3 linked regions of the Homo sapiens genome follow. The protein of the gene in region 3 interacts with the protein of the main gene of each other region in a pairwise test. Each region holds a gene or a part of one and is shown on either strand. Other genes may lie near its edges.

Region 1 (7,030 bases), on a different chromosome or scaffold from region 3:
TTTTCCTCCCAAATAGAAAATGCAGATCTCACTATGACTACCAAGGACTTCTTGTAGAATTTTGGTATCTCTTTATAGTGCATAAAGCTTAATACTGTTTTATTTTGTGAGTAATTATCCAGAAAGTGTAAGTATCCACTGTCTCTTAACTTTTTGTCATTTATGATTGTTCTTTTAACCTTCCCAATAGTAAACTATGTAACAAAAGAAAAAAAATCTATGTAATCATTAAAAAGAAGGACTTTAATATGTATCTGGAAATATTTTAGTGAAATAAATACGGAGAAAGTGTTTACTTCCTATTTTACTTTTTCTCCCCAATTTTTTCTTCCATCTATAGGTGTGACAGATCAATTGTCAATAAATCAAGGCAGACTGCACTGGACATTGCTGTATTTTGGGGTTATAAGCATATAGCTAATTTACTAGCTACTGCTAAAGGTGGGAAGAAGCCTTGGTTCCTAACGAATGAAGTGGAAGAATGTGAAAATTATTTTAGCAAAACACTACTGGACCGGAAAAGTGAAAAGAGAAATAATTCTGACTGGCTGCTAGCTAAAGAAAGCCATCCAGCCACAGTTTTTATTCTTTTCTCAGATTTAAATCCCTTGGTTACTCTAGGTGGCAATAAAGAAAGTTTCCAACAGCCAGAAGTTAGGCTTTGTCAGCTGAACTACACAGATATAAAGGATTATTTGGCCCAGCCTGAGAAGATCACCTTGATTTTTCTTGGAGTAGAACTTGAAATAAAAGACAAACTACTTAATTATGCTGGTGAAGTCCCGAGAGAGGAGGAAGATGGATTGGTTGCCTGGTTTGCTCTAGGTATAGATCCTATTGCTGCTGAAGAATTCAAGCAAAGACATGAAAATTGTTACTTTCTTCATCCTCCTATGCCAGCCCTTCTGCAATTGAAAGAAAAAGAAGCTGGTAAGAAATGAATGCTGCTTTTCATTGGTAAAATCTGGTTTTTAGACTTGAGTTGGAGTTGTATGTATTTGCACTTTCCAGGGGCACTCTTTTTCCAGTAAGCAGTGAAATTAGACTGTCTTCATCAGAAACTTCTTAAAGTTCTCACCCTAGGGGACTACTCTCCTGGGCAGTTAGTAGTTCTAATCAGCCCAGACTGATTTCCTGAGAATTAACCCTGGTGCATGATGATCTCATTTGATTCTTCATTGAATAATTCTTAGTTCCTGCTACACGTAGAACATGATGGCAAAGACTTTGACTGTTTTGTTTTGTATTCTGTTGATGGGGCTTTTTATGGCATGGTAAGAAATTGGGGTTTGATTCTAAAGCCATTTAAATGTAACCTAACCTGTGTTTAAAATATTTTTTTAAAAAAGACACTGCACACTGGCTGCATCATAGAGCATAAATTGTACACATGTAAGTAAGTAAGTGTGAAAGTTGGGAGTCTTGTTAAGAGGGAATTGAGTATTACAGGTGCCCAAGTAAGAGATTGCAATGGCTTGAGTTAGAATGGAGGCAGTGGAGATGGAGACAAAGGGAGAATCTGAGGTATTCTCGAGGTAGAAGGGATAGGGCTTGATCTGTAGGTTGAGACCCTTATAAGTGAGAGATGGTGGTAATATGGCATGAATTAAGGTACTGATAGTAGAAATGGAGGAAAGAGGGTATATGCAAGATAAAGTTTGGAGAGAAAATCACTGGTCTTTGCTATTGAATTGGATATGGGATATATAATAATGAAGGAAAAGATTAAGAATGACTGCTAGGCTAGAGACTTTAATAATTTGGTATATAGTGATACCATTTCTCAATAATATAGGATGATGGTTAGAGCAAGGAAAGCAGGACAGACTTGGATTAAAAAAATCAAGAGTTTACTTTTGGGCATACTAAGTTTTAGAAATGGACATTACAATCAGATGTCTGAACTGGAAATACCCATATGGCAGTCATCAACACACAGATACTTAAATCCCAAAAAACTACTGAGATTACTTGGAGAGTTGAGAGGAAGCAAGAAAAACTCAGAATAAGACCTGAATCCCCCTAAATTTAAAGGTAAGCTGCAAGCAGGAGAGCCATCAAAGGAGTTGGAAACAGTGTGGCCATGAGGTAGGAAGAGAGCAAGAGGCCTCAGGGAAACCAAGACAGCAGAGTATTTCCAGGAGGGAGTGGTCAAATGTATTGAATGCTGTTATGAACTTGAGTAAGATGAAGGCAAAGTGGTTTTTTTGTTTTGTTTTGTTTTTTAAAGCATCTTTGTCTTTGGTAATATGAAGCTATTGATGAACTTGACAAGAGAAACGTCAGTGGAGTGAAACGAACAGAAACCAGATTATGGTAGACTGATGAGTTACTGGGAAGTTAGGAATAGGTCACTTGTCAGTGACCACCTTCCCTTAGGTGATAGAGGTCCTTCCAGAGACTGCTTAAATATCTCCTCCTCAAAGTCTGGTGTGGTATGTTTTATTCTCCACACCTGTGGAGAAATCATCAAACTTTTTTAAGAAAATTTATTTTCTTTAGACATATATATATATATATATATATATCATTTTAAGATCAAAAAGATCTGATAAATGAGCTAGTTGCTTGCTTTTTTCCCTTGTAGGAAAACTGAGGCCTTTTAACTCACTTGCTCTATAAGTTTACACAGTTACTTAACTTTTCTGTGACTCAGTTTACTCCTAAAGAAAATGATAATAATAGTATCTATCTTCTTTAGGGTTGCTCTAAACATTAAATAATCTATATAAAATTCCTTGCATGGTGCTTGGCACATTGTAAGTACTCAATAAATGTTAGCTTTTCTTATTGTGATGATTCTGAAATAATGTAAATACCCTAGTGTAAGTTACATATTACAAGGTTACGTAGCAGGCAAAAACGTAATGTTGTCTATTCATTACAACTGTTTTATTTATTTTTCCCAGTTTAAACGATGTTAGAATTTTTGTTATTATTTTGTTCATTTCAAAAATCTGTAGACCAAATAATCTATTTTAGGGAGGGTAACTTTGTCAAGCATTTAACATATAGCATTTCTAGTCTTATTGCCTCAACTGTAATATTTCTGGCCAGGCCATATTAACTTTTTTTGAACTACCAGAGTAAAACCTATAGCTAAAGTGTATATATTTTAAGATTTATCCTATTAGGCATTTTTTGGTAAACAAAGTTAACCATGAATGTAGTAAATGCAGTGTGTTTTATACTGTGTACATGCAGTCTCCAGTTGAAAACAGGTTGTGTTCCACATGGCTTGGACCATCAATGGCATAGTCACCAAGAGAGTGGTGATAGCCTCCTACAGTTTCCTAGTAATATTTCCTTTAGAGTACAAATCTCACTTAAGAACTGACTTTGTGGTATATTTTTATTAAAATCACTATTGTAAAATCACTGTTTGTAAACTTACTCTACACTAGAATCATGAATACCCCAAATTTTAAAATCACCTACAGTAAAAGCCTGATCTAATATAGGATGTAAGATAGATGTCAGTATGTCTATCTTATATGAAAGTTATATTTTATTCAAACAAAAAAATCTAATTTTTGTAATCCAGAAAATTAAATCTTTTACTTTAAAAGAAGAATACGCATTATAAAAATAGAAATACTAAAACCCCTGATCACACAGCTATTCTTATTGTAGCTTGAGAACATTTTACTTATATATTGATTTTAATTTCTTACAGAATTAAAATTTTTGTGCTTTTCTTTTTTTTGAAGGGGTTGTAGCTCAAGCAAGATCTGTTCTTGCCTGGCACAGTCGATACAAGTTTTGCCCAACCTGTGGAAATGCAACTAAAATTGAAGAAGGTGGCTATAAGAGATTATGTTTAAAAGAAGACTGTCCTAGTCTCAATGGCGTCCATAATACCTCATACCCAAGAGTTGGTAAGCCCTTTATTTTATATCTCAGCCACCTGGATCTTGGGGAATAAGATATTTTGGAAAGAGAAAATTTGTGAGGAGCTAAAGAGTTTTCCTTTTTATGGAAAACATGTCTAACCATTAAGAATGTGTTAAAGTGTTACACACTTTCATGATTTTTAAGTAAAAAACATGGTACATCAATAGCCATTTCTTAACTTTGGGTTACTCACTATAATTTGATATGTTATGATACATGATTTCAAAAGCCAACCAATTTGGCTCTACTTAGTGGAGAAAAAGCCCCACTAAGTACAATTTATTGCCTGTTTGAGGCATTACTAAAGCAGTACAGCCTGGCCCTAGCTTTTCATTACTGTTAATGTCTGCCTGTATTCTCTCTTCTAATTGCTGCCTTGAGTCTGCTGTAGATTTGGAAATCTGGTAACCCAGACCTTTAAAACTGTGTGAAAGAAGAATAGATAGGCTCAGCAACACCTGAGGAGGCCTCTGGGGAGAAAAATACATGGCTTAGTGACATCTATTTTTGTTGCTCAAGAGCCTTTTACATTTAATTCCTAGTTCTTGGTCATGATATAGTGAGAAGAATTTGCTGAATTAGTAACTTCTAGAGAGATGAACTGTTATTTAAATTTTATTTAATGACTTTAATCATAGAATCACATTAGCTTTTAAAAACATTTTGTTAAGGGTTAGGATGGAAGAGGGAAATTAACTATTTACCGTGGTAAAATTTGAATTTTCCTTATTTCCATGTATTACCTACTCAAATTTTTTTCTCATTAAAAAGTAATAATACACCTAACATCCATAAGTACAGAATAAATGTTGCTGTTAAGATTGGGGGAAGAAGGACAAAAATGGTCTTCCTTTAGCTTACTGACACTATTCTATACAATTTCCCTGAGATATTCTATTATCAGCTACATTAGGGCAGAAAGAAGCAATCTCTTACAACCAGACAAGAGTTCTATCCCTATAGGAGATATACCTTTATATTATCCTATCAGACAGTGTTTGTACAATGAATCTAAATTCGTTTTTCCTGCCATTCATGTATCTGATTTTTTTTTTCAACAGATCCAGTAGTAATCATGCAAGTTATTCATCCAGATGGGACCAAATGCCTTTTAGGCAGGCAGAAAAGATTTCCCCCAGGCATGTTTACTTGCCTTGCTGGATTTATTGAGCCTGGTAAGCCATTTCTTAATAATTTATATTTAATTTATAATTTTAAAATACAAAGTTTAGGTAACATTTGAGAAATAATCTCTGATAAATTATCATGTTATAAAACTCGGTTATTTTAAGGTATTTTAAAAATGATACAATTTTAATAATATAAACATGTAATTCTCATGTTTTATATGAGAATTATATAAATTACTTTTCCTAGTAATTTGGTCTGCTTTGTTAAAAATTCAGTATTTGCTCTTTGATATGTTGCTCTTGACCCAGGTATCTAGGTTCCACCTCATTTCCTTCTGTACTAGACTCAACTGTTACCTTTTCAAAGAGGCCTTGCTTGATTGCCCCAGATACATTAGTTAGCCCCCATACCCTGCATTCACAATCCCTATCATCCTTCCTGATTTTTCCCTATGGCACTCATCATCACCTAATACCGTATGTAAGTATGTATATATGTACTTACTAATTTATTATCTTATGTTTCAAGAATATAAGTTTCATAAGCACAGGGACTTTATTTTATCCACTGCTGTATCTGAAACCCTCATAGCACATGCCTGTAGCACATGTAGTAGAAAGTCAGTAAATGTTTGTGGAGTGAATGAATACATCTAATTAATATGTTTTATCTCAATTTCAATTTCCAATATTTGCATTGCTAGATAATAACAGTAAACATATAGTATCAGGCTGTGTTTTGGAGGAGGATCATATCATATATATAAAACAGTATCAGGCTATGCTTTATATATATTTTTTGTATGATCCTTATACAACCTTATAAAATACACTATTACAGTGATTTTGCAGGTAGGGGCACTAAGGCATAGGGACTAAATAATTTGCTCAAGATCAAACAGCTAATAAGTGATAAGGAAGGGATTTAAGCCTGGGCATGTTGGTTTCTGAGTTCTTGCTCCAAATCACTATGCTGTCTTTAGTAGTTCTAGGTCATTGTCTTAACTGCTGGGTAGTAATCCATTCATGGATATTCCACTATTTATCCATTCTGCTGATTGGACATTTAGTTTATTTTAAAGTTCTTATTACAAACAGCACTGCAATTAATATTTTTATACTTCTCCTTGTGCACATTTGCAAGAGTTATCTAGGTTATATACATAGAGTAGTACGACCAGCTCATGTGTTATGAGCATCTTAACCTTTTCTGTATGTTGCCAAGTTGTCTCTGAAGTGTTTCTGCCAATTTACACTTCCTCCAGCAGAACATGAAATGTTCCATTATTCCACATCTTCACCAAGTTAGGATTTTCAGACTTTTAAATTTGTCATTCTGAGGAGTGAATGAAATCGTATCTCGTTTTCATTTTCATTTTCTTGCCTATGGAACATCTTTTTTCAAATGTGTATTAGGCATTCAGTTTTCTTTTCTCTGAATTTTAGATGTTTATCTTTTACCTAGTTTTGTTTTCATTGTTTATCCTTTTTTATTCATTTTAAGAATTCTTAAATATGTAGCATATGCTAATCTTTTGTTAGTTATGGTTTTGCAAATACCTTACACTAGTCTATAATTATATTTTTACTATATGTGTTCTTTTGATTATTATAAGTTAATTTTCATGTAGGAAATTTATCAATCTATTTGAAATAGAAAGCTATATTTAAAATATATTTTGCTAAATACAGCAATATTTAGCAAAATGTTTCTAAACTTCCAGATTTTACTTAGAAATGATTTTACTTAGAAACAATTTCCCCTATTCTAATTCTTAATTCCAACAAATTAGAAATATAAAGTACATTTATAGGCATCACTTACCATAGCAGAGTCAGCAGTCATCTAGAGGAAAATAATTGCTTAGAAAAAGTATTAAATTTCATCTTATGTAGTTTGTAATCTTGTAATGACCTGAAAAGAGTTACCTGCAATAATTGTTTGACAACATAATAAAAAAAAGTTTCAGAATTTTAGTGTGAAAGAGCTATTTGTAAAAATCATG
Region 2 (7,030 bases), on a different chromosome or scaffold from region 3:
TTTATGTGTTTCTTTTCCTGATCAGATTCTCATTACAATCTTTTTCTTTTCCCAGCTGTGCTTTTCTTCTTTGTTCCTTTTGTACTTATTGTAATAAATATTTGGCAAGTCTGAATGCTGTGGCATTTCTGAAAAAGCATTTCTTTTAAAATCACTGTTTTGTTTTAGGCACTGTGCATCCCCACCTTTCAGCTCCTAGAACAGCAGAATGGTCTCCAGAATCACCCTGACACTGTAGATGACCTGTTCCGGCTAGCCACCAGGTAAATCCTTCTGAAGAGCCCATTTCTTAATTGCTCATCCTATCACTGCTTAGTCTTGCCATCTGACCCTTGGTTGTTTTATTCTTGTAAAATGAAGTCACTGGAGTAAGTAGATTAATGATTCATAACCCAAAGGTAAATTGCAAGCTGATATATCCCCAGCAGTGACGCAGAGTATTGCGGGAAGCAAGGGATAAAGGAGCTGAGTTCCTGCCAGGAAGGAGGGCTCACACACAAGACAATGCAGTGTGCCTGGCAAAACACTTGACTAGATCATCTCTACAGTCCTCTGTAGGTTTTAACTGTTCGTGCTGTTGCGATTTCATGTTTCACCTCAACCTTCTCTTTGAGAAGCTTAGCATCCTTTAGATATAATCAGTTTCGGAATAAAGAATGTTTGGGATTTTAAGATGCCTTAGCAGTTATCTCATACTGTATTTCTCAGCTCTACTCACAGCCTACTTTATCAGTAGCACTGATAATATGATTGCCAAACTTCTGCTTGAATTCCTTAGTCCCTAACTAAGGAATTTGAACCAAAACTGTTACCATATCAGCATTAAAAAAAAAAAAAAAAGAAAAATCATTATTTTCGAAACAACAAAAGCCCAACTGTTATATCATTTACAAATGCAAAGTAATGTTGACTTGATTGTTTCATCTTAGGATTGATTTTTTTTCTTTTTTCTTTTTTGAGATGGACTCTCACTCTGTTGCCCAGGCTGGAGTGCAATGGCATGATCTCGGCTCACTGCAACCTCTGCCTCCTGGGTTCAAGTGATTCTCCTACCTCAGCCTCCCGAGTAGTTGGGATTACAGGTGCCCACCACCATGCCCAGCTAATTTTTGTATTTTTAGTAGAGACGGGGTTTTGCCATGTTGATCAGGCTGGTCTCAAACTCCTGGCCTCAGGTGATCCGCCCACCTTGGCCTCCCAAAGTCCTGGGATTACAGGCGTGAGCCACCGTACCTGGCAGGATTGAATATTGAACCCTTTTTTTTTGTTAGTTTTTGGATAGGTTAGAAAAACCCTTTTTTTTTCCTTTTCTTTTTTTTTTTTTTTCAGTTGATAGAATTGTTGGATGGGCTGTCACCCTCTGTTTTCTTTTTTTTTTTTTTTTTTTTTTTTTTTGAGACGGAGTCTCGCTCTGTCGCCCAGGCTGGAGTGCAGTGGCGTGATCTTGGCTCACTGCAAGCTCTGCCTCCTGGGTTCACGCCATTCTCCTGCCTCAGCCTCCCGAGTAGCTGGGACTACAGGCACCCGCCACCACACCCAGCTAATTTTTTGTATTTTTAGTAGAGACGGGGTTTCACTGTGTTAGCCAGGATGGTCTCGATCTCCTGACCTCGTGATCCACCCTCCTCGGCCTCCCAAAGTGCTGGGATTACAGGCCTGAGCCACCACGCCCGGCACACCCTCTGTTTTCTTAGGGTATGTATTCCTTGGAAAACTAGTCCCTAAAAATGTTCTTTATACAAATGATGAAACAAGTTTGGAGTATACTGTACCTTTTTCTGAAGAGATTCTCCCTGTATATTAAAGGAACTTAGAAACCTGATAGTAGTTTAAAGGAAAAAATAAACAAGCAAAACTACTTTCAAAATCCAGCAGCATTTCCCAAGCTTACCTGAACACACAACCTTTTCTTTGAGGGATTCCTGTTGACATCCTGGGAACTGGAATTCTGTGAACTTTAGTTTGGGAAATGCTGTTCTAGCATCTTTAGGACTTTTTAACCTAGGAGAGTTTCTACTTGTAGGTCCTTTTGACTGGTCTTTCTTGATTTATAAAATCTTAGTTGGAAATAGGATGTGGTGACACGTCTTTTAATATACTAATCTTAAGATATGGTCCTTTTTTTTTAAAGAGCAACTTTAGGTTCACTGCAAATTTGAGTGAAAAGTTGCTCCCATATACCCCTCCCTCCTAACACACACAGCCTTCCCCTCTATTAGCATCCCCCACCAGAGTAATACAAACAGTGACCCTATATGAACACATCATTATCACCCAAAGTCCATAGTTTACATTAGGCTTCACTCTTGGTGTACATTCTGTGGGTTTTGACAAATGTGTAATGACATGTATCCACTGTTATAGTATCATACAGAATACTTTCACTGCCAAAAAAAATCCTCTATGTTCTGTCTATTCATCCCTTCTTCCCTGAAACCCCCCACCAACCACTGATCTTTTTTACTGTCTTCATAGTTTTGCCCTTTTACCCTGGCTGCTTTTATAGCCTAATCTTGTCATTTATACCTAGTCTCACTTTCCACACCAGGTTTATTCAGCGTAGCCCTGTCACCTTGCTGCGGAGCCAAGTGGTCATCCCTATCTTACAGTGGGCCATTGCCTCTACTACCCTGGACCACCGGGATGCCAATTGTAGTGTCATGAGGTTTCTACGAGACCTCATTCATACAGGGGTAGCCAATGATGTAAGTATAAAAATGATACCATTTCTACTTAACAGCTTTTATCTCCTATCTCTTTGTCATTCCTTAGGAGAAAACCAGCATCCCAGTATTTCCTTACTTGATCTATATTGGTAGACATATATCATAGTGGATCATTCACTAGCCAAAATATCAACTAAGACACTTGTGCTGGGTGCTTTAGGCTATATAAAGCAGTCTAAAACTGTTCATGCTCCCAAATCATTTGGTGTCTAGTTGAAGAGAGAAACAAGTTTAAAGAGTTAAGTAACAACAAGATGCCAGTGTTTGGTGTTTTTCATTTGTTTTTGAAACAGGGTCTTGCTCTGTCGCCTAGGCTGGAGTACAGTGATGTGAATCTCAAGGGATCCTCAGCTACTGAGTAGCCAGGACTACAGACATTCAACACCATGCCTGGCTAGTTTTTATATTTTTTGTAGAGATGGCATTTCACCATGTTGCCCAGGTTGGTCTTGAACTCCTGGCCTCAAGTGATCCTCCCACCTTGGCCTCCAGTATTTGATTGTCAGATGAGTGATAAAAGTCATGATTGGTATGAGATCAGACGAGGGAAAGCTCTAGACCAAAAAGAGTTGGAATAACTTTATGGAAGGGGAGGGATTTAAATGAAGCCATGAATTAGAGGTAGAATTTTGATGGATTAGAGAGGCAGATAGTCATACTGCCTCTAAGCCAAGATCAGAGCAAGTCAGAATAGTACTAAGTTTGTTAGTAGACAACTAAGCAGTGGGAGTAGTAAAGTGCTTCACAGGAATTTCGAAGGTAGGTTTGATTAGATGTGGAGTAGAATTGTAGACAGGGGAGAGCAGTGAAGAAGTAAGTATTCTGCATTCTATTTAGGCTATTCATTTAAGAAGTTTGGCAGTAAAAGAGAGAAGAAAATAACTAGAAGGGAAAGGCAATTTAAAAAATATTTTTCTCAAGGTATTAGAAATACATGTGTATTTAAAGACCACAAGAAGGGCCAGGCGCAGTGGCTCACGCCTGTAATCCCAGCACTTTGGGAGGCCAAGGCGTGCAGATCACTTGAGGTCAGGAGTTCAAGACCAGCCTGGCCAACATGGTGAAACCCTGTCTCTACTAAAAATACAAAAATTAGCCAAGTGTGGTAGTGTATGCCTGTAATCCCAGTTTCTAGGGAGGCTGAGGCAGGAGAATTGCTTGAACCCAGGGGATGGAGGTTTCAGTTAGCTAAGATCAGGCCACTGCACTCCAGCCTGGGTGACAGAGCAAGACGCTGTCTCAGAAAAAAAAAAATTAAAGACCGCAAGAAGAAAAAAAGGGTTTTTTTTTTTTCGATAGAAAAAATTAGATCTCTGATAGACGTCTTCAATTCTAATTTCAGTTGGTTTTGTTTTGTTTTGTTTTGTTGTGACTTGGGGTTCCGGCTGTGTTACCCAGACAGACTGTAGTGGCCATTCACAGGCGAGATCCCACTACAGATCAGAATGGAATTTTGACCCACTCTGTTTCTGACTTGGGCTGTTCACCCCTCCCTCCTTAGGCAACCCAGGAGTGGTTCCTCACTCCTGGGAGGTCACCACATTGATGCTGAACTTAGTACAGGCACCCAATTGGTATAGCATGCTCTAGCCCAGAACACTGGGTTCAAGCTGTTCCCCTACCTGCGCCTTTGGAGTGGCTGGGACTATGGTGTGTGCTGCCATGCCAGGCTGACTTAGTTTTTAAAAAAGGAAATAGGAACACAAGTTATTTTTCACATTAAAAAAAAATTAATACCATCACATAGAAGATGAAGAGAAAAAAATTTTAAAAATTGCTAACTTTAATTCTTAACCATGTTTTCTGCCTTCAAATCATGAAAAATCTAAGCATTAATCTCTGTTGAAACCCATGTTCATTCCTTGGATACTAATAAACTCCTTCATTTTCTTTCTAAAGACAAAAAACTTCTGGACTTTGTGAATCCAGCTGTCATTTTACACACACCTGCATACACACACACACAGCCACGCGTGCACACACACACACACTTTCCTATTAAAGAGAAATTACTAAAGGGGAAAGAGTGCTTGGTCTTTGGGAAGTTGAGACTAGAATTTATCTGATGTTCCTGCTTTCCTACATACAGCATGAAGAAGACTTTGAATTACGGAAAGAACTGATTGGACAGGTGATGAACCAGCTTGGACAGCAGCTTGTCAGCCAGCTGCTGCACACCTGCTGCTTTTGCCTCCCCCCCTATACCCTACCAGATGTGGCTGAAGTGCTCTGGGAGATCATGCAGGTTGACAGACCGGTAAGATTGTTTTCATGAGGAATTTATCTCATAGTCCCTAAATGTAATAGGCTTTGGTTCCTTAAGGCCAACCCTAATTTTGAAACTAGCCCTGTTTTCTGTCCATGGAACCAAATTTAGGCATATTGCCAAATTAGATTGGTAGATGAAGAGGCCCGTAAAGATCAGTAATTTATTATTGAGTTCTTTAAAGCATGTTTCTATGTCACTGTCATAGGGGGTATATTACCAGAAGTAAGTATCAAGCATTGAATTCAGTTGTGTGGCTGTCCAATGTGAAATTTGTTCACTTGTGAGAGATGCCCAAATGTCAGTTATATTAGTTACGTATTACTCAAGAAGTATTTAATCCTTTCAGACTTATTCTATAGCACTGTATTATTTCTTGGTGATACATCTAGCCAGAACATTTGGAAGCACATAATTGTCAAAGTAACCCACAATGTACAGTTGGATATATTTCCCCTTTGGATTTCTTTGAACCAGATCCTTTATCACCCACCTAAGGATGGAGTTGTTTTTTTAAAGCTATCTAATAATGCCCAAGTAATTTCAGTACTGGGCCACATGACCATAACTCAGGTTATGTGTACTGTGTGAAAGTTGAGTAGAATGGTAAAGTATAATATAACCTGAAATCATTTTTAAAATGGAATTTATAATTTTTAATATTACTGTAAAAGCAGTTCAGGAAAGTACTCATTGGGACCTAGTTAAAGTGAGCTGTCTTACAGAACCACAGAATATAAAATTGATAATAATAATATATAACAGATAGTACCTATTCCTCTCTGGTTCAATACACATGTTCCATTTCAACCTGATAGAGTAGCATATTTGTTTTTCTAAAGAAAAGTACTTTTTGAGCCTCCAGGAATCAGCAAATTTAATTCAAAAGTCCTTGACCTGAGGGAAAAAGTCTTCATACTCTGCTTAAACTTTTTTACAAATACATTTGGTTCCCAAGTAACAGAAAACTTATGTAAATCTAACTTTATGAAAACATTCTTGATTGTAAGCATATTGTTAAGTGCGAACAACAACAACAAAAAATGAGAACAAGAAGTTTGGACAGGAATAGAAACCAGGTAGCCATGTACTCTAAGGAGTGTACTGTATATCAGCCAGACACAATGGCTCATGCCTGTCTTCCCAATACTTTGGGAGACCAAGGCAGGAGGATCACTTGACGCCAGGAGCTTGAGACTACCAGCCTGGGCAACATAGACCCCATCCCTACAAAAAAAAAAAAAATTTTTTTTCTTTTTAATTAGCTGGGTGTGGTGGCATACATCTATAGTCCCAGCTACTCAGGAGGGTGAGGTAGGAGGATTGCTTAAGCCCAGGAGTTCCAGCCTGCAGTGAGCTATGATCATGCCACTGCACTCCAGTCTGAGCTGCATAGCAAGACCCTGTCTCAAAAAAGAAAAAGTTTGCTATATAACAACTATTATGTATTTTTAAGAATTAAGGAGCTGTTATGTATCCATAATTAAGAAATGCTTAGTACTTCATGAGCATTTATAATACTTTTGCTCTGGCCTATTATGGCCATAAATGAATATGATGGGAAAATATATAATGTAAAAAAAATTAGGTATAAAAGAGTAATTTTACAGCCCAAAACTATGACTGAAGTATACATTCCACTTAAGAAAGGGATGAAGAAATATTAGTGCTGACCCAAAGGACAACAATTAAACTGAAAATAAGAACCCAGAGGAAGTCTGTAGAATTTTTATTTTAGAAAGGAAGGAAGTAAAGGGAGTAGACAATTTTTGTGCATAGAAAAGGCATAAAGAGAATTCTTAGATATACTTATATAAAAAATATATAAGTAAATTAAACAGCAACAAGAGCAAGGTTTTTTAACACAAAGAACAGGCAGATATCACAAAGGAACTGAATGGATAGGACTTATTCTGAGAGAGATGGCCTTAAAATCCTTAAGATTCTGGACTCATATGTCTCATATGTATACTTTCTGACATGGTGGCTTAGTATACTTTTTGCCCCTGCTCTTTCAGGTATCTGAACCTTTACTCTG
Region 3 (6,272 bases):
TATATTCACAGACACTGTTTTTCCCTTTACAGACTGACCCTACCCTTTCTGTTACAAAATACAGAAACGTTGCCAGTGTTTTTTGGTTGGTTGGTTGGTTTGAGGTGTTTTGTTTTGAGGACTGTTCACTTTTCTTTCTTTCTCATCGCATGTAAACAAGACATTAAAGTTTAAACAAAATTTAATTTCACCTTAGTTCCTAAAGCTGACTTTATCTATTTGTCTGTGTTTCACTCAGTGTAACCTTGGGATCCCTGGAGCAGGTTTTTATTTTGTTTTCTTTTCTTTTTTCCTTGGAATGCTTGTGTCTCACGGCCAGTGTGTCTAAGGGTTAGGAGCTGCACCTTCCCGCAAGTCAAAAGGGCCAGCCGAATCCTGCCTGAGCCGGTGCTTTGCTGCTTCCTACACAGGTTTCAGACACACTGATCCTAATCTTCTCAGTCAAACTCCAAGACACACAGTGTCAACAGTTACGGCAGCCACAAGTTCATTATCTACATAGGGCGCAATTACTTGGCAGCTACCTAGACTGTGAGGTTTTTGTGGGTCCCCAAAGAACTCATATCCTGAAGAGAGAGACTAATCAAGGCGGGTCCTCTTGGCAGGGACATTGAAAGGGTGGGTTACAATTGATAGGAATTTTAATTTGTGAGGACTTAATCTGATATGCTTTTGGAACAAGATAGTGTAGATGTACTTATTGTCCATCTTCTGGGAGCATTCTTTGAAGATTCATTTGATTGTATGGTGATAGTATTGTTGAAAGGACACAGAATTTTATTACATGAATCTGCTTCTATCCTTCACCTGCCTAACTGCCCAGGGCCACTGCAGTGATTTATTCAGCCTGCATTGTGGTGAGGGAAGGGACGACTAATGTCTCAAACAGTGTGGTGTTCCCTAGTCTGCTCTCCTGCTTGCTGAAAGCTCCTTTTTGGGAAGGCAGATGCTTAGTTTTTCAGGAAGCACTCACTTAGGATGCAGTATTTTAGTTTTAAATAATACGCACTGGTTGACCTTTGAGCGGACAGAACTTTTGTTGCTAGAACCTGGTGGCACTGGTGTGGGTGATGTTAATTAAGGGCCAGGTCCTGACACCAACAAAGCCAGGAAGTTTGGAATATATAATCAAGACAAGCCAGAAGTAGCTACAGAGTGGGCCTGTACTGTCCTTCCGTCTCTCGTCTATTGAAAGTAGGGGCCCTGGATCCAGGAGGCCAGCTTATCAGGAGACAAGAGTGCATTCCTTTACCTGCCTTGGTCGGAGCACTTGAACACTTTTACAGAGCACTCCCAACCCCTACCATTCCCACCCCCAAGACAGGGTCTCACTCTGTTTAGGCTAGAGTGCAGTGGTGTGATCTTGGCTCACTGAAACCACAGGCTCAGGCCACCACACCAGCTAATTTTTTTTTTTTTTTTTTTTTTTTTTGTGAGGATGGGGTTTCGCCATGTTGCCCAGGCTGGTCTTGAACAACTGGGCTCAAGCAATCCACCTGCCTCGGCCTCCTAAAGTGCTGAAATTATAGGTGTGAGCCACTGCACCTGGCCTCCACAGTGTTTTTGAGGGTAAACGTATGCTATGCCACGTCAGGATGATCTGTCTTTGACTTCTGTCGGGTGAAAAACAGGATTGGGCATAGATGACTTCACCAAATCAATTGTGTTTTCAGGTTAAATAATGCCCTTTGTCACACCTTTTAGCATACAAAATTAGACTTACCAGTATTGTTGCCTTTAAATTTAATCCAGTCTTGCCTCAAGAGCAGCAGTTCTCAAAGTGTGATCTTTGGTTCCCTAGGGCCCTTTCAGGGAGTGTGCAGGGTCTGCCCTTGAGCAACATATCTGTGTGAGGCTGGATTTCCTTCATCTGCTTCAAGCAGAACAACATACTGCAACAGATTAAACACAGATGCAGATACAGGAATTCAGCTGTCTTCTGCAAATCTAGACATTAAAATGTAAAACAATGCCACTTTTTTAACTAAAAATATTTTTTTACATAATATAATTTTTTTCCTCAAAATATATTGTTTATATTCATTTTTCATACTTATTTTTAAATGAATTAATATTTTTAACTTTCTGTTTTAGTTTCTGATATAGTAAATAATGATAGATATTAGTCCACATAAAGAATGTTTTCGGTCCCTAATAATTTTAAGAATGTAAAGGGCAGGGCTTGAGGCCAAGAGGCTTGAGAACTGCTCACTAGGGGACCCTCTTGCTAGAAACACCTACTTCTCCGTTCTCTTGGTCCTGTGTAGTGGGAAATGGTATAGCACAGGCCTAGGTTTATGAGAACTGCTCACTAGGGGACCCTCTTGCTAGAAACACCTACTTCTCCGTTCTCTTGGTCCTGTGTAGTGGGAAATGGTATAGCACAGGCCTAGGTTTATACAAACTTTCAGAGAAAAATGGCTCCAGTGTTTACTATAAAACAAGTAGCAGATACGGTCAGATGACAGTCGTGGTGCTGATGGCCATTGCTAGTCCGGGAGCCCTTGGATGTGTGTGCCTGCCTTTCTCTTGATTCAGTACACATCGTTTGCTCTGTGTTCTGTCTGTGGCCCAGCAGCCCATTCTTGTTTTAAATATACGGACTTCAGTCTCTCACTTTAATTTTGCTCTTCTTATTAGCAATGGCTCGGGTAAAGCATTTTTTTCCCATTTAAGTTTTTTGGAGATCTGTTCCTGAAAGAACAGATTTGTTTGTTTTTGTTTTTTTAACTTTCAGTAGTTTTTGGGGAACAGGTGGGTTTTGGTTACATGGATAAGTTCTTTAGTGGTGATTTCTGGGACTTTGGTGCACCCAGCACCTAAGCAGTGTACACTGGTATGTTGTCTTTGTTTTATCCCTCCACCCCTCCCACTCTTCCATCCTGAGTGCCCAAAGTCCATTATATCATTCTTATGCCTTTGCATCCTCATAGTTTAGCTCCAACTTATATAAGTGAGAACATATGATATTTGGTTTTCCATTCCTGAGTTACTTCATTTAGAATCATGGCCTCCAGCTCCATCGAAGTTGCTACAAAATACATTATTTTTTTCCTTTTTATGGCCGAGTATAATATTCCATGATGTATAAATATCACATTTTCTTTATCCACTCGTTGGTTGATGGGCACTTAGGTTGGTTCCATGTTTTTGTAGTTGTGAATTGTGCTGCTATAAGCATGCGTGTGCATGTGTCTTTTTCATTTAGTGACCTCTTTTCCTTTGGGTAGATACCCAGTAGAGGGATTGCTGGATCGAATGGTAGATCGTTAGTTCTTTAAGGAATCTCCATACCGTTTTCCTTAGTGGTTGTACTAGTTTATATTCCCACCAGCATTGTAAAAGTGTTCCCTTTTCACCACATCCACACCAACATCTGTAATTTTTTTGCTTTTTAATTATGGCCATTCTTGCAGGAGTAAGGTGGTATCACATTGTGGTTTTAATTTGCATTTCTCTGATAATTAGTGATGTTGAGCATTTTTTCATGTTTGTTGGCTGTGTATCTTCTTTTTCAGATTGTCTATTCATGTCCTTTGCCCATTTTTTGATGGGATTATTTGGTTTTTTGTTTGTTTGTTTGTTTCTTGCCGATTGTTTGAGTTCCTTGTAGACTCTGGGTGTTAGTCCTTTGTCGGAATCATAGTTTGCGAAGATTTTCTCCCACTCTGTGGGTTGTCTGTTTACACTGCTATTTCTCTTGCTGTGCAGAAGCCTTTTAGTTTAATTAGGTCCCATTTATTTATGTTTTTGTTGCATTTGCTTTTGGGGTCTTAGTCATGAATTCTTTGCCTAAGCCAATGTCTGGAAGAGTTTTTCCGATGTTATCTTCTAGAACTTGTATTGGTTTCAGGTTTTAGCTTTCAGCCTTTGACCATCTTGAGTTGATTTTTGTGTAAGGTGAGAGATGAGGATCTGGTTTCTGAAGGGGAATTTGTGTTGGCCTAGTGGAGCCTGAGATGCAGGTTAATCCTCCTTATGGAAGGCAACTATTACTAGGATGGGTACCCGATGACACCACACTTTTTCTCTCAGCTGAGCTTTCAACCTTAAATGGGGCATTAGTGCCGGGGCACCTCTGTATAGTCCTAACCCACTGGAGAGGCCTTCCTAAGGAGAGCAGGTTAAGCAGATGTCTGAGTCTTCTAGTTCCGCCTGATCGTCATCGTAGATTTCCTCCTAGGAAAACAAGGACTGTTTTATCATTTGACTCCCACACTATCATCTGCAAATAAGTGCATACCTAGGAATGATGACTTGGCCCCATCAGAATGCTCACAGCAGCCCGCCTGGTTGTTGTAGGAGTGTGTGATAGAAAGGAATGGGGGAGAACAGCCATTGACACTGGTAGGGTAAGAAAGGAACTGGGATGCTTGCCCTTCTGACCCTAGAGATTTATGCCCTAGGTGTGGCTGTATGAATGAGAAGTTTTTCTGCCTCCCTACTAGTATACAGGTCATCACTCACCATCACCAAGGCAGCGGAGGAAGAGAGCATCAGTACAGGATCTGGTGTTAGCCTTAGGTCCAAGGCCCAGCTCTGAACCTCACCATGTGACCTGGGCACATCACCTAGTTACTCAAGACCCGGTTTTCTAATTTTTCTAAAAATAGAGCCATGCCTGTCCTATCTGCTTCACAGAATTGCTAATAAGATTTAGATTAAATGAAATTACAGATGGGAAAGCTGAAAAATATGTATGAATATTAGTTTTGTAAAAGGTTTATCCTACAAAAAGGGTTTCTGCTCTTTGTCCCTTGCCCTCTGGACTCATAAGTCTTCTGTTCTTTTCTCCAGGTTACCTGTGCATGACAGATGAGTGGTTCTCTGAGTATGTCTACGAAGTGGTGGTGGACAGGAAGCATGTCCCTGAAGAGGTGCTAGCTGTGTTAGAGCAGGAACCCATTATCCTGCCAGCATGGGACCCCATGGGAGCTTTGGCTGAGTGATACTGCCCTCCAGCTCTTTCCTCCTTCCATGGAACCTGACGTAGCTGCAAAGGACAGATCCAGGGACTGAAGCCAAAGTTATGCAAGGGACTGTGTGTTGCCACAGGACACAGTCAGATTTCCAGTCTCCACCAGGAACCTCTTCAGAAAGTGTGCTTTATGCTGAAACAGAATACTGTTAAAGGAAAAAAAAGAGGGGGGAAGATCAGGTCATACTATCTACTCTCCTCATCTCTAACAGCTCAGGATCTCTTAGCATTTTAATTAGATGTAATTGTTTGTCTTTAACTGTCAAAAAGTTTGGTTCTGTGTCTGTGTTTTAATAAGACGAGAGGACGAGCGATTGAGGTGTATGGAGAGAAAACAGACCTAATGCTCCTTGTTCCTAGAGTAGAGTGGAGGGAGGGTGGCCTAAGAGTTGAGCTCTCGGAACTGCATGCTGCTGGACAGTATCACTGTCTTTCCTAGATGGCAGTCACTGAATTCCATTTTTTCAAGGTAATTTCTTGTGCCTCTAATAGCCCAAGAATGGGAGGTTGATCAGATCTGACATGATTCCTTCCTGTTCTGAACTGTGGGGTGTGCACATCTCTGCTTGAGTCAGGTTTGAGTAGAGGCTTAGAGACAGTTGGGTGAGAACAACCAAAATCTTATCATGGTCTCAGTCATAATCATTAGGGGGAACTCTAGCCAAATGGTTTAACTTCTGCCTGTGGAACTGGGGATTGGGTGGGCAGGAAAAGGTGATATCCATTCTTTCTGATAACTAGATGGTGCTGAGAAGCTTTTGAATAAAAACTTTGCTAAATGAGAATAAGCTGATTTATGTGATCTGTCTGAGAAGTGTTTGTTTATCTACAAAAGAAAGCAGCCAGGTGGCTCATGTTCTTGAAAGTGAAAAAACAGGAAAAGGGCTTCCCTCTTCAGCTTCTCTGCAAGATGTGTACTCTTTCCCAGACCGCCGATTCTCACCGGCATCTGCAAAGGGCTTCCAAGCGCCTGTTTAAGAAGGACTGTTCCCCTACCGCATAAATGTTCTACCCAGATCCAGGGTCCCTACAAGGGTGGGGAGTGAGGCTCTGTTGGGCCCAGCCTTAGAATAGGTCAGTAAGTTATCTTACTGAGATTGGGCCACCCTTTCAAGAACAAGGGTAAAATAGAAAACATTTTCACAAAAAAAACTGAATTTGCCCCAACAGAAGGGAAGTGATCAGTATGGAAGGGTTGAAATGTATCAAGGAATGTAGAATAAAGAACATGATTGTTATGTTGGTCAGCTACACAAAAAGCAACTGTAGAAGAGTCTTAACAGGGTTGGAAAAA

What was found. Proteins that work in one complex are often made in the same cells at the same time.
Region 1: the proteins of BLMH (region 3) and NUDT12 interact in binary tests that used the Homo sapiens proteins (3 or more experiments, as listed by UniProt).
Region 2: the proteins of BLMH (region 3) and TNPO3 interact in binary tests that used the Homo sapiens proteins (3 or more experiments, as listed by UniProt).

The regions. Positions count from the first base shown.
Region 1 is NC_000005.10:103,552,779-103,559,808, reverse strand, and holds part of NUDT12 (NAD-capped RNA hydrolase NUDT12), read left to right. Parts: intron 1-340; coding exon 341-930; intron 931-3,710; coding exon 3,711-3,878; intron 3,879-4,955; coding exon 4,956-5,069; intron 5,070-7,030. UniProt on the Homo sapiens protein: mRNA decapping enzyme that specifically removes the nicotinamide adenine dinucleotide (NAD) cap from a subset of mRNAs by hydrolyzing the diphosphate linkage to produce nicotinamide mononucleotide (NMN) and 5' monophosphate mRNA.
Region 2 is NC_000007.14:128,968,101-128,975,130, reverse strand, and holds part of TNPO3 (transportin-3), read left to right. Parts: intron 1-168; coding exon 169-263; intron 264-2,548; coding exon 2,549-2,705; intron 2,706-4,815; coding exon 4,816-4,983; intron 4,984-7,030. UniProt on the Homo sapiens protein: Importin, which transports target proteins into the nucleus. Specifically mediates the nuclear import of splicing factor serine/arginine (SR) proteins, such as RBM4, SFRS1 and SFRS2, by recognizing phosphorylated SR domains.
Region 3 is NC_000017.11:30,247,694-30,253,965, reverse strand, and holds the end of BLMH (bleomycin hydrolase), read left to right. Parts: intron 1-1,732; exon of another isoform or gene 1,733-1,892; intron 1,893-3,559; exon of another isoform or gene 3,560-4,179; intron 4,180-4,797; coding exon 4,798-4,949; 3' UTR 4,950-5,763; downstream 5,764-6,272. UniProt on the Homo sapiens protein: The normal physiological role of BLM hydrolase is unknown, but it catalyzes the inactivation of the antitumor drug BLM (a glycopeptide) by hydrolyzing the carboxamide bond of its B-aminoalaninamide moiety thus protecting normal and malignant cells from BLM toxicity.